Regions from separate parts of the Homo sapiens genome. Here regions 1 and 2 are each linked to region 3. The links come from fine-mapping of genetic effects on gene expression. A gene starts in region 3. Each other region holds a variant in brackets. All regions are shown on one strand. Distances are from middle to middle.

Region 1 (5,220 bases), 80 kb before region 3:
GTAGGGCGTCACTCACCTGCCTCACCCTATTTCCAGCCCTGGATGAGTGATCCATGCAGAAAGGGTTCTGTGGTCAATAAGGACGGAGACACTAGCTTACAGGTGTTACCTCATTGCATGATTCTTCAGAGCCTTTAACAAAGGAGTGTGCATTGAGCATTTCTAAGTGAGATAATGGCAGACAGAAGGGGCAGTACGTCCTAAACTGCTTTAACCACAGAACCTCTCTTTACGGAGTTGGCAGAGGGCTTTGTTTTCAGAAGGTCAGGCATTTGGAAAGAGAACAGTAGATGCACATTATCTCTTGATCTACCTCCTTACATAATTATTTGTCTTTTTATACAATATCTAGTCTCCCAACTAGCTTGACTTATGTATTGAACCCCCAGGCCAATGCTCTGGAGAGCAGAGAGCTCAGTTGAGGTCTGTCAAGAGTCCACTGCAGCTGCTTCACATTTAAACGGCACGTGTAAGTGTATGGTAATTCATCCTCAGAATATCCACCATTACTTATCCTATGGTAAAGTAATCCCAGGTAGTAAGTTATCCATGTGTTAAAAGGGTAGAACTGTGCTGTCGAATATGGTAGCCATTAGCCATGTGTGGTTATTTTAATTGAAATTAAGAACGAAATCCTGTCATTTGCAGCAACATGGATGGAACAGGAAGTCATTATGTTAAGTGAAATAAGCCAGGCACAGAAAGACAAATATTGCATTTTCTTACTCACATGTGGGAGCTAAAAAAGTGGATCTCATGGAGGTAGAGAGTAGAATGAGGTGATCAGAGGTTGGGAAGGATAGAGAGGAGTGGGGATGAAGTACGGTTGGTTAACTGGTACAAATATACAGTTAGATAGAGGGAAGAAGTCCCAGTGTTCCATAGCACAGCAGGGAGATGACAGTTAACAATAATTCATTGTATAATTTCAAAGTTCCCAACACAAAGAAAAGATAAATGTTTAGGCCAGGCACGGTGGCTCACGCCTGTAATCATAACACTTTGGGAGGCCGAGGCAAGTGGATTGTTTGAGGCCAGGAGTTCAAGGCCAGCCTGGGCAACATGGCAAAACCCCGTCTCTACTAAAAATACAAAAATTAGTTGGGCATTGTGGTGCATGCCTGTAGTCCCAGCTACTTGGGAGGTGGAGGCATGAGAATCGCTTGAACCTGGCAGGCAGAGGTTGCAGTAAGCTGAGATGGCACCACTGCACTCCAGCCTGGGTGACAGAGTGAGACTCTGTCTAAAAAGAATAAAAAATAAATGTTTGATGTGATGGATATCCCAGTTACCCTGATTTGATCATTATATATTGTATACATGTATCCAAATATCACATGTACCCCCAAATATGTACAACTATCAGTTAAAAATTAATAAATAAATGAGAAAAATACATGAGAAATTAATTTTCTCAGTTCCTCATTTCAAGCACTCAACGGCCACAGGTGGCTGGTGGCTACTGAAATGAACAGCGCAGACACAGAACGACCTAACATTTCCATCCTGGCAGAAAACCCTCTTAAATGGCATCGGTGATTCACCCAAAGTTCCATGGCCTTTTACAGGCTGGCATGAAACCAGAACTGGAATTCTGGGCCGAGGCCCTCTGAGCAGACTGCCTCGGGAGGGGAGGTGCTCCCGGGCAACTGAGACTCTGCACCTGAACGGCCCGCAGTCAAAGGAGGGTGGGAGGGACATGATGGTGTAGGCCACCGGCAGGAGGCTGAGGAAGAGCACCAGCAGCAGGAGGCCCATGTAGAAGTTGTTGGATCGGGAGGCTTTGAACACGCGTTCATGGGGTACGTTGCTGCTCATCACCGCCCAGCACTGGAAGTACATGGAGGTCAGCAGGCGCAGCACATTAATGCCCACCAGGCCTGGAGCATAGAAGGAGCCCATCCTGGAATGGCAGAAACCAAACACCTGGTTGGCTGGACAGCAGGGAAGGCGAGGGAAGGGTGATAGAAGGAAATGGGACGGATGGGTTAGGGGCATGAGGCCGAGCTGCTTTCCTGGCAAGTCCCCAGGTAAGGGGCCTCCCATTTAACCAGAATATCGATCATCAAGCCAGAACCATGCAGTCCTCAGGAGAGGGAGGCACTCCGAGCATTCCTGGCTTAAGCTCTGGCCAAGATTTTACCACTGACTCGCCCCCAGGCATCTAGCAAATTATACGGTCTCCTGCCTGTTTCTCCTCGGTTTCCATAAAACAGCATTGCTGCTCAGAAGAGTATTTGAAGTCCTTCAATTGAGAGAATTGGACAGTGGCTTGCAGCGAGCCCTTGGCACCTTGAAAGTCTTTGGCTGAAGTTATGTACCTCCTTGAACTCCCTTTTCAGAAGAGGGAGTTCCATAGTTCATTTACCTTCCACCTTCTCTTCCTTCTTTTCTCCCTCCCTCCTTCTTTATTTTCCTTTCCTCCTCTTTTCCTCCTCTTCTTTACTCCTTCCTTTTCCCTTTCCTTTGTCTTTCTTCCTTCTTCCCTTTTTCTTCCCTCTTCTCCTTCTCTCCTGCCTTCCTTCCTTTTCCTTTTCTCCTCCACCAACCCCTCTCCCTTTCTCTCTACTTCTATGGTAGCACATGGGTGGGCCAGAAACTGTCCTGCTTCTCATCTAGTCCCGCTCTTGATTTTTCATGTGAAAGAGGGGAGTTCAGAGAGGCAAGAGGACTTATCTAGCCTCTTCCAACTAGTTAAGTTGCAAAGTCTGGGATTCCAGTTTTTTGACTCCTTGGATGAGGCGATCACCAGATGAAATGGATAACTCACCAGATCATTCCTTGGTTGAAGATCAAACCCAGCACATTTCCACTAATATCAAACTCAGCATATGAAGGCTAGAGAGGGAGGGAGGGAGCGAGAGAGAGAGAGAAAAAAAAAAGCACGTTTGGTGAATTCAGCCAAACCCTACTACCAACCAACTGGCCAAGCCAAGGCCATTCCATCCCAAAGAGCCTGCTCTGGTAACTAGAGAAGAACCTTAGATTTAGCATTCTATTTCTTTAATATGTTTTCAACTTTTAAACAAAAAATTTGACATTCTCAAAGCTGAAACTTTAAAAATGCCTATTTCAGTAAACAAAAAAATGACAGTTTCTATCTTTCAGGCCTTGCAGGCTGACAGC[G/A]TGTTCTTGGGAAGACCCTCGCCTCTAACAGAACATTTTATCAACGTTTTAATCAGAAACATACCCTGAAATTATAATCAAGGAGAAATCTAATAAATAATGAAATGCAAATAATTAAATGAGGAGTCAAAAGAAAAGAAAGCTTAAAAACAAACAAAAACCAAATCATCCTTCCAACTCTTCTTTCTCCTTCTCTTCTTCCTCCAGTCTGAGAGCAGTTCACGGAAAGGAAAGCACCCAGCTTGGTTCATATTTTCAGCCTACCTCATTTGCAGTTTTCGTGATTTGTCCGAATATTTGAAAGAACATAAAATCTGTGAGCACTGAGGATATGAGGGTCCTCATGAAGCATGCTAAAGCCCACATCCCAATTTGTCTTCCAGAAATGGAGATAAAGGGAAATGAGAACACAAGAAGGAGAGATGAGAAGTTAGGAAAGAGACAAAGGAAGGGCCAGCATGCATGGATGGAAGAAGGAAACATGCATACATTAAGTCCACGGGGTGAAGTCTTGGATGTTTATTTATTGAGACGGAGTCTCGCTCTGTTGCCCAGGCTGGAGTGCAGTGGCACAATCTCAGCTCACTGCAACCTCTGCCTCCTGGTTCAAGTGATTCTCCTGCCTCAGCCTCCCAAGTAGCTGGGATTACAGGTGTGCAGCACCATGCCCAGCTAATTCTTGTATTTTTAGTAGAGATGGAGTTTCACCATGCTGGCCAGGATGGTCTTGAATTCCTGACCTCAAGTGATCCACCCACCTCAGCCTCCCAAAGTGCTGGGACTACAATGTGAGCCACCGCACCCCCACCCAGAATTTAAATTTTAATATTTTAAAATGTTAAAAAAAACACATATCTACTGGGTTTCATGTCCTACTTAGACAAATCTTCCTCACTCCAAGATTCTAAGTTTGTACATGCTTTCTTTTAGAAATTTATATTTTCATTTTTTTGATGTTTAAGACTTTGATGTGCCTAAAATTAATCTAGATGAAATGAATGAGGGATATAATCCCCCACATTTTTATATAATTTATATATATTTTAATATAATCCTTTCCCCCCAGTGTGTTTGAAAGTCTCCCTTTATCATAAACTAAAGGCCCATGTAGATAGTATCTATTTCTGGACTTTCTATTCTGTTCCATTGACATGTTGGTCTATTTTCTAGTACCAGTTTTAGTTATTATAGCTTTATCATATGTTTTAGTATTATGGTAAGTCTAGTTCCTTTTATTCATCTTTTTATTTTTTCTTTATATACTTTTTGAGACAGGGCCTCACTATGTCGCCTAGGCAGGAATGCAGTGGTGTGATCAAGGGATCAAGGGATCCTCCTGCCTTAGCCTCCTGAGTAGCTGGGATTACAGGCATGCACCAGCACACCCAGCTAATTTTTTATTTTTTGTAGAGATGGGGTCTTGCTAAATTGCCCAGGCTGATCTTGAACTCCTGGACTCAAGCAATTCTCCTAATTTGGCCTCCCAAAGTGCTAGGATTACAGGTGTGAGCCACCATACCTGGCCTTATTCTTCTTTTTAAATATTTTTTCTGGATATTCTCACATGCTTATTTTTCAAATGAACTTTAGTATTATTTGGAAATCGTGGTGATCTTACAAACAAATTTAAGAACAATGACCTCTTAGTAATATTGTGTCTTTCTATCAAAGATGTCATCCTCTTTGAGCACAAAGTTCTTTCATCTTCGTTCTCAGACAAGATTATGAAGCTTTCCTGGCTGCCGAGGAGCTCAGCAGACTTGTTTAAAACTGAGACTGGTGACTGAACGAAAAAAAATGTGACAGAAACCTGTACTGGGGCCCTTACCTGGGCCAGGCCAGGATGAGGGATACATAGGTCAACATCCTACGGAGCCTTTCACCAGGAGCTCAGGTAAGAGGTAGGTACCTTACATGCACACCAGTGACTGCAGGCTGGGCCAGTGAGGTGTTGTGGAAGAGACATGTACAGCACAGGTGCCTGAGCCAGAGATTCTGCCAGAGCATAGAAGGACACTACAGAGAGGAAATGACACACATTTACCAGGTAGGTGGGGAAGAGGGCTATAAGGGAATACAAGTCAAAGGAGGTTT
Region 2 (5,220 bases), 120 kb before region 3:
AGTGATTCTCCTGCCTCAGCCTCCTGAGTAGCTGGCTGGTATTACAGGAGCGTGCCACCATGCCTGGCTAATTTTTGTATTTTTAGTAGAGATGGGGTTTCACCATGTTGGTCAGGCTGGTCTCGAACTCCTGACCTTGTGATCTGCCCGCCTTGGCCTCCCACAGTGCTGGGATTACAAGTGTGAGCCACCATGCCCAGGCTAATTTTTGTATTTTTAGTAGAGAGAGGGTTTTACCATGTTGGCCAGGCTGGTCTCGAACTCTTGACCTCAAGTGATCCACCCACCTCTGCATCCCAAACTGCTGCGATTATAGGCGTGAGCCACCGTGCCTAGCTGCCCCTTTTCTTTTGTCTTCCGCGCTTTAATCTCCTCATTTGATTTTTTTGGCTTCTAGTTCTGCCCCTATAGTTCATCTTCCATATCTCTTCTTGGAAAGAACAGCCTGATTTTCCAGGCCCAGCCTTACCATAGGAAAGTCAGTACTTTATAAGTTGGCCCTTAATTTTCTGCCTTGGTTCCACAACTCTTGTTCTGTGCTTCAATCACACTAGATTGTGTGTTAGATTCCAAATATGTACTACCTGACTTATATTGTTCCCTCCACCCAGAACGTTCTTTCTTTGGTGCTACCTGTTAGAGTCCTTCTCACTCATTCACTGTATTAGTTTCCCATAGCTGCCGTAACACACTACCATGAACCTGGTGGCTTATCATTAACAGAAATGTATTCTCTCACAGTGCTGGAGGCCATCAGTCTGAAATTAAGGTGTTGGCAGGGCCCTGCTCCCTCTGAAGGTTTAGGGGAGAAACCTTTCTTGCCTCTTCTGGTGGCTCTTGCTGTTTTTTGACTTGTAGATGCATCACTCCAATATCTGTGGTTTTCTTCCCTCTCTGTCTCGGTATCATTTTTCTCCTCAAATATTTAGCCCTGGATGGGACGATTTTTTCTCAAGATCCTTAACTTAATTACATCTGCAAAGCCTCTTTTCCCAAATAAGGTCACATACATAGGTTCTGGGGCTCAAGGCATGGCTGAAGTGCCAGCTCTTCTGTGCTGTATCCTGATATTACTGGAGAGGATTTCCTCTTTGTGTTGCTATGCAAGTTTCCCATGGTACTTATCATGTCTTTCATATTTTCTGTCTTTCCCAGTGTACCGTTTGCTTCTCAAGGGCAGGAGTTGTATGGTTTTAGTTGTTATCCTTATTGCCTGACATATAATTGATATTCATCAGTAGGTGTTGGGTTAAAAAATGTCAAATAAGGAGAAGGCACAGATAAAAAGATCACAGATCTGCTAGCATTGTTTTTCAACTTGTTGTTAAACCCAGGCTCTTTTTTGATAAATAGAAAAAATCTGTTCTCCGTTTTGAAGTTTCAACATAAATTAAATATGTTGACTAAAAATAAAGCATTAAGGCCGGGGCGGGTGGATCACTTGAGGTCAGGAGTTTGAGACCAGCCTGGCCAACATGGTGAGACACTGCCTCTACTAAAAATACAAAAAATTAGCCAGGTGTGGTGGCACATGCCTGTAATCCCAGCTACTGGGGAGGCTGAGGCAGGAGAATTGCTTGAACCTGGGAGGCAGAGGTTGCAGTGAGCCCAGGTCGTGCCACTGCACTCCAGCCTGGGCGACAGAGTGAGACCCTGTGTCTCTCACACACGCACACACACACACACACACACACACAGAAAATGCAATAGATGAAATGTTTCTGGCTTTAACTACATTATTCTCTTTTGTCCCTTGCCCCCAGAGACAATTTAAAAGTTTACTGATGTGGGAATGGGAGATGGGAGTCTGGGTTACATGATGTTCCTAAGGGGGTTAGACACTGGTCTGAGTTCCCTTGGGCTTGGCCTGTGGCTGACACTCCTTTTCCCACTTTGTTTTCACAGGAAAGATTCATACCCCGATGGAGTATAAGGGGGAGCTAGCCTCCTATGATATGCGGCTGAGGTAGGTGGTCTGGGTGGGGTGAATGGTTGAGAGGTGCCAGGGCACCAGGAGCAGAGCTGATGGCCCTGCCCACCCTCAGGCGTAAGTTGGACTTATTTGCCAACGTAGTCCATGTGAAGTCACTTCCTGGGTATATGACTCGGCACAACAATCTAGACCTGGTGATCATTCGAGAGCAGACAGAAGGGGAGTACAGCTCTCTGGAACATGAGGTGAGGCCCCAGAAACTGGGGGAGGGCAAGGATGAAGATGGGAGAGAGGTGGAGCTCCTTGTTTCCCTTCCCAGTGTCACCTAGCTGCTGCTTTCTTCTTACCCAGAGTGCAAGGGGTGTGATTGAGTGTTTGAAGATTGTCACACGAGCCAAGTCTCAGCGGATTGCAAAGTTCGCCTTTGACTATGCCACCAAGAAGGGGCGGGGCAAGGTCACTGCTGTCCACAAGGCCAACATCATGTGAGGGGCATGGCTTTGTGTAGGATGGGTTCCTGGGAAGGTAGCCCCTGTACTTTCTTGGCTGATTCTGTCCCCTTTGGCCCATGGACAGGAAACTTGGGGATGGGTTGTTCCTGCAGTGCTGTGAGGAAGTTGCTGAACTGTACCCCAAAATCAAATTTGAGACAATGATCATAGACAACTGCTGCATGCAGGTGAGGCCTCCCCACATCTCTACTCATGGGGCGGAGGAGGAGGGTGGGGAGTGGAATTTACTTCATGCCTGCATCTCACCCTCTAGCTGGTGCAGAATCCTTACCAGTTTGATGTGCTTGTGATGCCCAATCTCTATGGGAACATTATTGACAATCTGGCTGCTGGCCTGGTTGGGGGAGCTGGTGTGGTCCCTGGTGAGAGCTATAGTGCAGAATACGCAGTCTTTGAGACGGTGAGGCTGCTTTCTCCCTCGGCCCTTCCTCTGACCTCAAGTCCGCCATTCCTCTCCCATCCCAATATCTCCACTTCCTAAGTGATCTTGGCCTGTTCTTCCCCCACGCTGCCCACCATGCCTCTTTTCAGTGACCCTGGCCTGAGCTCCCCCTCCCATAATGTCCTTTTCCAACCTAAGCCTCTGC[A/G]TACCCCTCCTGCCTCCTCCCAGTGTCTAGCCTGCCCCTCTCTCCACAGGGTGCCCGGCACCCATTTGCCCAGGCAGTGGGCAGGAATATAGCCAATCCCACGGCCATGCTGCTGTCGGCTTCCAACATGCTGCGGCATCTTAAGTAGGTCATGGGAGGCTGTCGGCAGAGGTTGGGTGTCGTGAGGAGGAGCAGGTGGGGAAATTAGCGGGAGGTGTCTTGGGGGAGTCACAGTTTCTTCCTGTCCATATCCACAGTCTTGAGTATCACTCCAGCATGATCGCAGATGCGGTGAAGAAGGTGATCAAAGTTGGCAAGGTGAGTTGAGAAGAGTAGTGCTGGCTTCAGGATTTAGAGTAGTTCTGGTGTCAGCACCTCGGCACTACCCTCTGGGGAACCTGAATGGGGGTCTCCTTTCCCCCCAGGTCCCCAGAACATCTGCTCCCTGACATCCCTGCATCCCTCTCAGGGCTGTTCTTCATCTCCCTTCTCTTGGCTGTTTCATCCTCTTGATCTCTTTTGCCTCTTAGATCCCATCTGCTGTTCCCTCTTTCCTGCTCCATCCACTGCCCTTTTCATGGGCCATCTGAATGCAGAACTTGCAGCTCTCCTTGGGGGTGGAACAGCAAGGGATACAGGCAGGCTGAAGCATCAGCTTCACCTTCACGCCCCATCTCCTTTTCGCTGTGATTCTTTCCTTCCACCTGGTCTTGTCTCTATTTCTTCCAAGGAAGGTAGCCACATCCTGCCTCTGATCTGCGTTTCCCATCATCTTTGCCTGCTCAGCCTCCTGTCCTGCCCTGGCTGCAGCACAGCTAATAGTGGCTTAAGAGGAGTGGCAGGTCCATGTGCTTCCCATCCTGGCTCCTCCTTCCATTCCTGTGCATTGCCTTTTTTCTGGCTGTCACGCATTCTTGGCTTCCATTTCCTCAATCACATTGCCCTACCTCCCTTCATGGGCTCTCTTTTCTCCCTCCCCACGGCTGTTGCCGGTGGTGGCTGTAGGTGCGGACTCGAGACATGGGCGGCTACAGCACCACAACCGACTTCATCAAGTCTGTCATCGGTCACCTGCAGACTAAAGGGAGCTAGAGCCCTTTATTTCTTCCAACCTTGCAAGGACCACACTCCCCATACCCTTCAGTGCAGTGTACCAGGGAAGAGACCTTGTGCCTCTAAGCAGTGGACCATGGTCACCTTGCTGGGTAGAGCCTAGGTTGTCCTTGGGCCGGCTTCCTTAGGGGACAGACTGTTGGGTGGTGATGGGGATTGTTAGGATGGAGCCCAGGCCACATGGATGATGATGATTCTCCCCCACAGGTTCGAACCTCTGACATGGGTGGCTATGCTACTTGCCATGACTTCACTGAGGCTGTCATTGCTGCCTTGCCCCACCCATAGGCCCTGTCCATACCCATGTAAGGTGTTCAATAAAGAACATGAACCAACTCTTGTGAATTTGTTTTTATTGGGGAACACGGCACAGGGTGGGAAATGTCACCTTGGGCTATGGTATGCCCCACCTCCCAGAGAATGTCCATTTGCATTCTAATCTTCCTGGGATGCTTTATGGAACTTTTTCTTCTTCTTGGAGCTGCTCTTGCCAACCGCCTCTTCAGGCCCACTGCTGACCGGCTCCTCTTTGGAGAATTTCCTCTTTTTCTTGGAGCCACTTCTGTGGCCTGCCTCCTCAGGGTCATTAACTGTTTCCTCCTTGGGTGTAGACTTCTTCCTCTTGGGAATACTGGTGCTGCCAGCGGTCTCTTCAAGATCGCTACTCATCAACTCCTCCTTGGAAAAAGATTTCTTTTTCTTGGGTTTGGAGAAAGAGATAGATGGGTCTTCCATTCCATTCTCCTGAGGAACCTCCTGGGGCTTTTGCTTTTTCTTCTTTTTGGGTTTTTCACTCATCTCCTAAAGGGAAGGACAGGGGAACAGGCTGTGAGAACAGTGCTCATTACATCTTCAGCAATTAAGTAGCCAAGGCAGGGGAACGCGTGTCGTTAACATTGCCCAGTGTTTCTGGGATAGTTTAATTGTGTGGGTATAACTTTAGAAATCCACCCCAAAGGCTGTCCCAAATTAGAAGGAAAACATGTCATGAGAAATTACCTCAGCCCATTAAAAAAAAAAACCTAAAAAACACCCACCATGCTGGTCGCAACAGAACCATCATGCCAAGTTCCAG
Region 3 (5,220 bases):
AAAACAAGCCAGAATTTGCCCTTCAATCTTCCCCAGACCTCTTCAACACAGAAAATAAGCTGTTTTTTTCTCTTTCATAATCAGTTTTCAACAGACTCCACATAATGCATAATTTAGGAACTGGAAAGGCAGCTGTCTTGCTAGGAAGGCCTCCAAGCCCAGCACACGCTCTCCTAAATGTAACAGGCCTCCTCCTATGTAGCACCTGACTCGGTCAGAGAATTCACAGTGCAAAACACAGGCCGAGGAGAGGCTGCGGCAGCCCTCCAGTCCCGTGATCTCAACAGTTCAGTGCACTTACCAAATGATACAGGAGGAGGGAGAGTTCTCATCCTTCTTTTCAAGGAACACAGTAACAAACTGTAGCTATTCTGAGAAAAGAACATTGTATTCTTAAACTTTTATTCCCTCCTGGTAGAGTATAAAGGGAAGGATGAGAATATCAGGTCCCGTCGCAGGTGACTCCAGAGGAGATTTAAAATGGAAACCTTCATGGGGCTGGGTTTCAGTTAATTCAATATATTCCCAATGTTTAACTTTACTGCACCCCTTCACCACTTAGATCTGTGAAGTGAAAATTCTGACCAATTTCCTGTGTTCTATGGGAAAGGGAAAACGGCAGCGGCAACGTGGAATATTTCAGTAGGAAAGGGTTTGTGTTGTAGGCAAAATGGTCTTCCATTTCAGTCCTACTAAGGACTACTGCTCACAGGGGAGTCCCGCACAGCACAGCCCTGCAGCAGAGGCAGAGGGAGGCCAGGCTGGGTGCGGAAGGGACGGCATCTGGATGACTACGAGGGGAGTGGGGTGTGGAGAACCAGCCTGAGCATCCTACAGGCAGTGGTCACTACGGGAGCACCGTGGCCCGACCCCCGGGAGGAAGGTTTCTCGTCTGGCCACCCTGGGGCATAGAACTTTCTCACATTTGCTCCTTCATCTTTGGATTGAGATAAAGAGTGGATGAGGCAGGCAGGTGGGGTAGGAAGAAGGGACAGTGGCTGAGGCAAGTTCCGGGATAGGGGCCAGGAAGGGCTGTTGAGATGCCATGGCTGCACCCCCTGCCAGCCTCTGCCCAGCTCTTCCTTGCCTCCTGCTCCTGGGTCTCTCCCCTTGTAACACAGCGGCCTCACTGAAGCTCAGGCTCCCGACAACCAGACAGCAGCGGGTCACAGGAGCGGAAAGGGCAGATGAAGTGGCTCCTGGGGCCAGCTCCCTACTGGCCAGAGTGGGGCCAGGACAGGGCCCTCCCACAGGAGGGAGTGGAAAGGGCCCTCCCTCCCAGAATGGGGGAGGAAGGAGATCTCTTCCAACCCCCCAGAACCCCATCACTCCCCAAGATTCTGGTTTCTTGCCTACTAGTGTGGGGCGCAGGACCCAGCCCTGCCTGGGACGTGAAGGGGGAGAAAACAGCATCGCATCCATAATATTTTGTGACATGAAGATGCCCAGCCTGTGAGTGTGGCTTCTGCCCCTCTCCCCTGAACCCTCAGTCTCAACCAAGGGTTTTCTCTCCCGCCTATGGCTTCCTTGGGCTCTCCCACTTCTCCTGGAGCAAGTTGGCTCCCTCACCGGCTCACGGGAGAGCTGTGGTCACATTCCCAGTGGGAAGGTGATGGAGCACCCATTATGCCTACTACTTTTTGGAGGTTAAGAGTGTTCCTCCTAGAGTCCGGGGGCCTGGATGTGAATCTGGCCACACCACCCGCCAGAAGCCTGCACCGAGCTTCCCTGCCCTCTGTCTGGTGAATGTTCACTGCTTCCCAAGGCTCAGCTCAGAGTGTCACTAACCCTGGGAGTCTCCCCTGACACCGAGGGCTGAGCAGCACCTTCTCTGAGTGGTACTCTGCCCCCTCCCATGTTAAACACCTTGCCTCCCAGGAAGGCTCCATGCAGGGTGTTGAATGAGAGGGAAGGAGATGAAGGAGAATGTTGGATGGGTGGCTGGACTGTTGGGCTAAGCAGAGGGCACCCAGGCACTGCAGGCTCCCCAGAGACCCCACCACCCCATCTCACCTGTGTGTGGAGAGCCGCTCTTCACCCGCCCTTTCACTCCGCCTCGTGCTGTAAGAGACAGGATTGCTGACAAATGGCTGGCCTCTGGTGAGTCCCCCTCCCTGCAGACCCCCGGTCACTGTGGGACCCCTCAGCTGATTTGTGGCTGCCTCAAACTGGGACCCAGCTCCAATGATTTTACTCAGCAAATTATAGAGTCCCCTGCCTGTCACATTTGTCTGATACTGTCAGTCATGAGGTCAGAACATCCCCCACCCCCTGCCCTGCACAGAGACAGAGACAGATAGAAATCTGCTGAGGGGCTTGCTCGGAACAGGCAACCCTAACCGAGACAATAGGTGGCTGAGACGCCCCAGCAGGCTCTGAGGAGCATGCATCGGCCGTGACAGTCTCCAGTGCTGGCCTGAACACAGGTGCTGTGCACAGGTTGTCTTGAATCCTTCCAGTAGCCCTGCAAGGAGGTGATGACTACCCCCATCTCATGCGTGAGGATCAGAGAGGTTGAATAACCAGCCGAGGTCGCTCAGCGCACAGGGGACAGGCCCTGGACTCAAACCCAGCTCCTCCCTATGCCTCTGAACACCATATGTGCTTCCCCCATCCCCTGCTGCTGCCCAGGAACCCTGTGGGCGGGCCCCGCAGGATCAGGACGTGGACTCACCTTCCTCTTTCAGGCCCTTTACCTGGTGGCTCATGGTCAGCAGCACTGCTGGGGTCCTGCACAGGCTCACGCAGCGTGCTCCTGTATGCACGCCTTCAGCCTGGGCTGCTTTCCTGCCCTCATGGTGGCTGGCCTCCCTTCCTAGACCTGACAGCAGGCGGGGCTTCTTGGTTTGAGATTGAATGTGGAGGTGGGTGAAGTTTGGGGGAGAGAGACGGGTGAAGGAAGGCGACGAGTTCCCGGCCCATCAATCCGGCCACACACTCCTCTTCTCAGGTTTCCCTGCAAAGAGGCAGCATGGCCTCATGTTTCAGGCATCAGTTATACATGAGGGGCCCTGGAGGGGCCAGGAGCTGCAGGCTTATCTCCTGGCAATGATGCCGCTGGCACTCTAGCCAGAGGAGGTGTGAGGAGCATCCCAGGCCCTCTCCCACTATCTTGAGTCCCTGATTGGGACAAAGCACCAGGGAAATTCTAGAATGTTTGTTTAAGTTATTACTTGGGCTTCTGTTTAAAATGCAGATTCTGGCATGTGGTGGTTCACACCTGTAATCTCAGCACTTAGGAAGGCAGAGGCAGGAGGATTGCTTGAGCCCAAGAGCTCAAGACCAGCCTGTGCAACGTAGTGAGACCCCATCTCCACAAAAAGAAAAATAATAATAATAAATTTTTAAAAATAAAATGCATACTCCCAGGAGTGGCACTGGGCGTTGGAATCAGTCAGTCTGTGCCAGGCCCTGGGAGCCTGCACTGTGGATCCTGCTGCAGGCGTCCTGAGCCCACACAGATGAATGTTCCCGCTCAGCCCCCGCCCCCTCCCTCAGCAGCTTTTCCTCCCTGGCTTCAGGGAGGCACAGATTTGGCTGCTTTGAAAACCATCACTAAAGTGTCAGAGGGACCCTCTGGAAGGCAGTCATAAGGTCTCAGAGTGTGGAGTTCTTAATCTGGAGTCCCTGGAACCCCCAGAGCTGTGGATGGAATTCTGTGGGTTTGTGAATAGTGATGGAGAAAATACTACACTTTCACTTTTCCTAGCCTTAACTGCGATTTAGCATTTCCCTCAATCATGAATGTAAGCAAAGATGTGATTTTTGTCTCAGCAAAAGTCACAGTTATTTTTTTTCCCAATTAAACCACTGGGGATGTCTCAAAATATCTTACATGTTATCACAACTTCAAAATTATGATAGTTAGAGACCTGCCATGAAATCTTGTTATTTAATTAGGAAGCATATATTGTCATTATATGAAAGATATTTAAAGTGATTTTGATGCCTATTTCAGGATCATTGGTCTCCTTTGTAATCCTAGTGTTTTATTTTATGGATTTAATGTCTATGTTCTGAAAAGCGGTCTGTGGCTGGGCGTGGTGGTTCACGCCTGTAATCCCAGAATTTTGGGAGGCCAAGGCAGACGGATCACCTAGGGTTGGGAGTTCCGGACCAGTCTGGCCAACATGGTGAAACCCCATCTCTACTAAAAATGCAAAAATTAGCCGGGCGTGGTGGGATGTGTCTGTAGTCCCAGCTACTCAGGAGGCTGAGGCAGAATTGCTTGACCCAGGAGGTGGAGGTTGCAGTGAGCTGAGATTGCACCACTGCACTCCCTGGGTGATAGAGTGAGACTCTGTCTCAAAAATAAAAAAAAATATAAAAAGGGGTCTACGGACCTTACCAGGATGCCAAAGGATTCTATGACACAACAGAATAAAAAGCCTTCCCCAGGGCAAGTCTCCTGTGGGTGTCAAGGACAGACCTAGCCTCTGATCATGCCCATGTACTTTCTCAGGGGTCAGGAGTAGGAGTGCCTGTCCTCATGCAAGCTTGGCGAGGGAAGGGGCAAAGGAGCTACCTCTAAAATGCACGTGCAACGGTTCATCTCAAGCTTTGAAGCTTTTCTCTTTGTCCCACACCTTGATCTCCGACCCAACTGGTTCCTGCAGGGCCGCCCCAGTCCCCGGGGCATGAGGGCAGTGGGAGGATCTCAGTTGCATTCTCTGGCATCCATACTGCAGGACTGCAGCCGCAAATCCCTCTCCCCACCAGGGCCATGCCAGTGCAGGACCCCGGTCCATGTGAGAAGCAGCACGGGCAGCTGTGCAGCCACAGGACAGCGTGGCCCAGAGGACTGGTGAGTAAGGTTTCTGCTGGGGGTGCCCCAAGCGCTCTCCCCTGATGAGTGAGGACCCCCAGCAGCCCTTTACCCTGCTCTTTTTTTTTTTTTTTTTTTTTTTTGAGACAGCGTCTGGCTCTGTCGCCCAGGCTGGAGTGCAGTGGCGCGATCTCGGCTCACTGCAAGCTCCGCCTCCTGCCTTTACCCTGCTCTTGTTGTTCTCTGTTGCCAGAGGAGAAAGGCTTTCTACAACACCTTCATCTCCGGAGAGAAATTCCCTCCAGATAGGACTATCAAATTCCCTTGTACCTGACTGTCCACACAGTCGATAACTCCACTTTTCTCCTCACAGATAAAAATGAGCACCCACTGGGGTCAGAGTCAGTTCTCGGCTCTGGGGATTCATCAGCAAATGAAACAGAGACCCTTGTCCT

Which allele goes with the higher level. Alleles are on the strand shown, and positions count from the first base shown. SD is a standard deviation of normalised expression in the study named.
As copies of G replace A in region 1, the expression in neural progenitor cells of the gene that starts at base 2,757 in region 3 goes down (large effect, 1.5 SD a copy in Aygun 2021).
For the expression in fibroblasts of the gene that starts at base 2,757 in region 3, allele A in region 2 goes with a lower level than allele G (moderate effect, 0.46 SD a copy in GTEx).

The links. PIP is the estimated chance that this variant, and not a neighbour inherited with it, causes the effect.
Region 1: its variant is the best candidate, but not a certain one, in a credible set for the expression of TMC2 in neural progenitor cells (Aygun 2021, PIP 0.89).
Region 2: its variant is the best candidate, but not a certain one, in a credible set for the expression of TMC2 in fibroblasts (GTEx, PIP 0.53).

What each region holds. Positions count from the first base shown.
Region 1 is chr20:2,613,755-2,618,974 of GRCh38, reverse strand. TMC2 (transmembrane channel like 2) reads right to left here. Exons shown (of 20, transcript NM_080751.3): 15 at 2,771-2,838; 16 at 1,664-1,903. It overlaps LOC105372505 (a long non-coding RNA gene), which reads left to right. Exons shown (of 5, transcript XR_007067502.1): 4 at 390-469; 5 at 4,843-4,929. Among named protein-coding and RNA genes, the nearest start is that of NOP56, 36 kb to the left of the region's middle. The variant G/A (reference allele first, on the strand shown) is at 3,127.
Region 2 is chr20:2,657,655-2,662,874 of GRCh38, reverse strand. It overlaps NOP56 (NOP56 ribonucleoprotein), which reads right to left. Exons shown (of 12, transcript NM_006392.4): 12 at 4,482-4,946. The coding sequence ends at 4,581. It overlaps IDH3B (isocitrate dehydrogenase (NAD(+)) 3 non-catalytic subunit beta), which reads left to right. Exons shown (of 12, transcript NM_006899.5): 5 at 1,906-1,966; 6 at 2,046-2,178; 7 at 2,285-2,418; 8 at 2,510-2,612; 9 at 2,699-2,845; 10 at 3,082-3,176; 11 at 3,290-3,350; 12 at 4,038-4,480. The coding sequence ends at 4,124. Among named protein-coding and RNA genes, the nearest start is that of SNORD57, 3.3 kb to the right of the region's middle. RefSeq lists an enhancer at 1-382 and a silencer at 4,325-4,525. The variant A/G (reference allele first, on the strand shown) is at 3,033.
Region 3 is chr20:2,534,110-2,539,329 of GRCh38, reverse strand. TMC2 (transmembrane channel like 2) reads right to left here and starts at 2,757. Exons shown (of 20, transcript NM_080751.3): 1 at 2,675-2,757; 2 at 2,014-2,061. The coding sequence starts at 2,708. LOC105372504 (a long non-coding RNA gene) reads left to right here. Exons shown (of 3, transcript XR_937204.3): 3 at 4,720-4,802.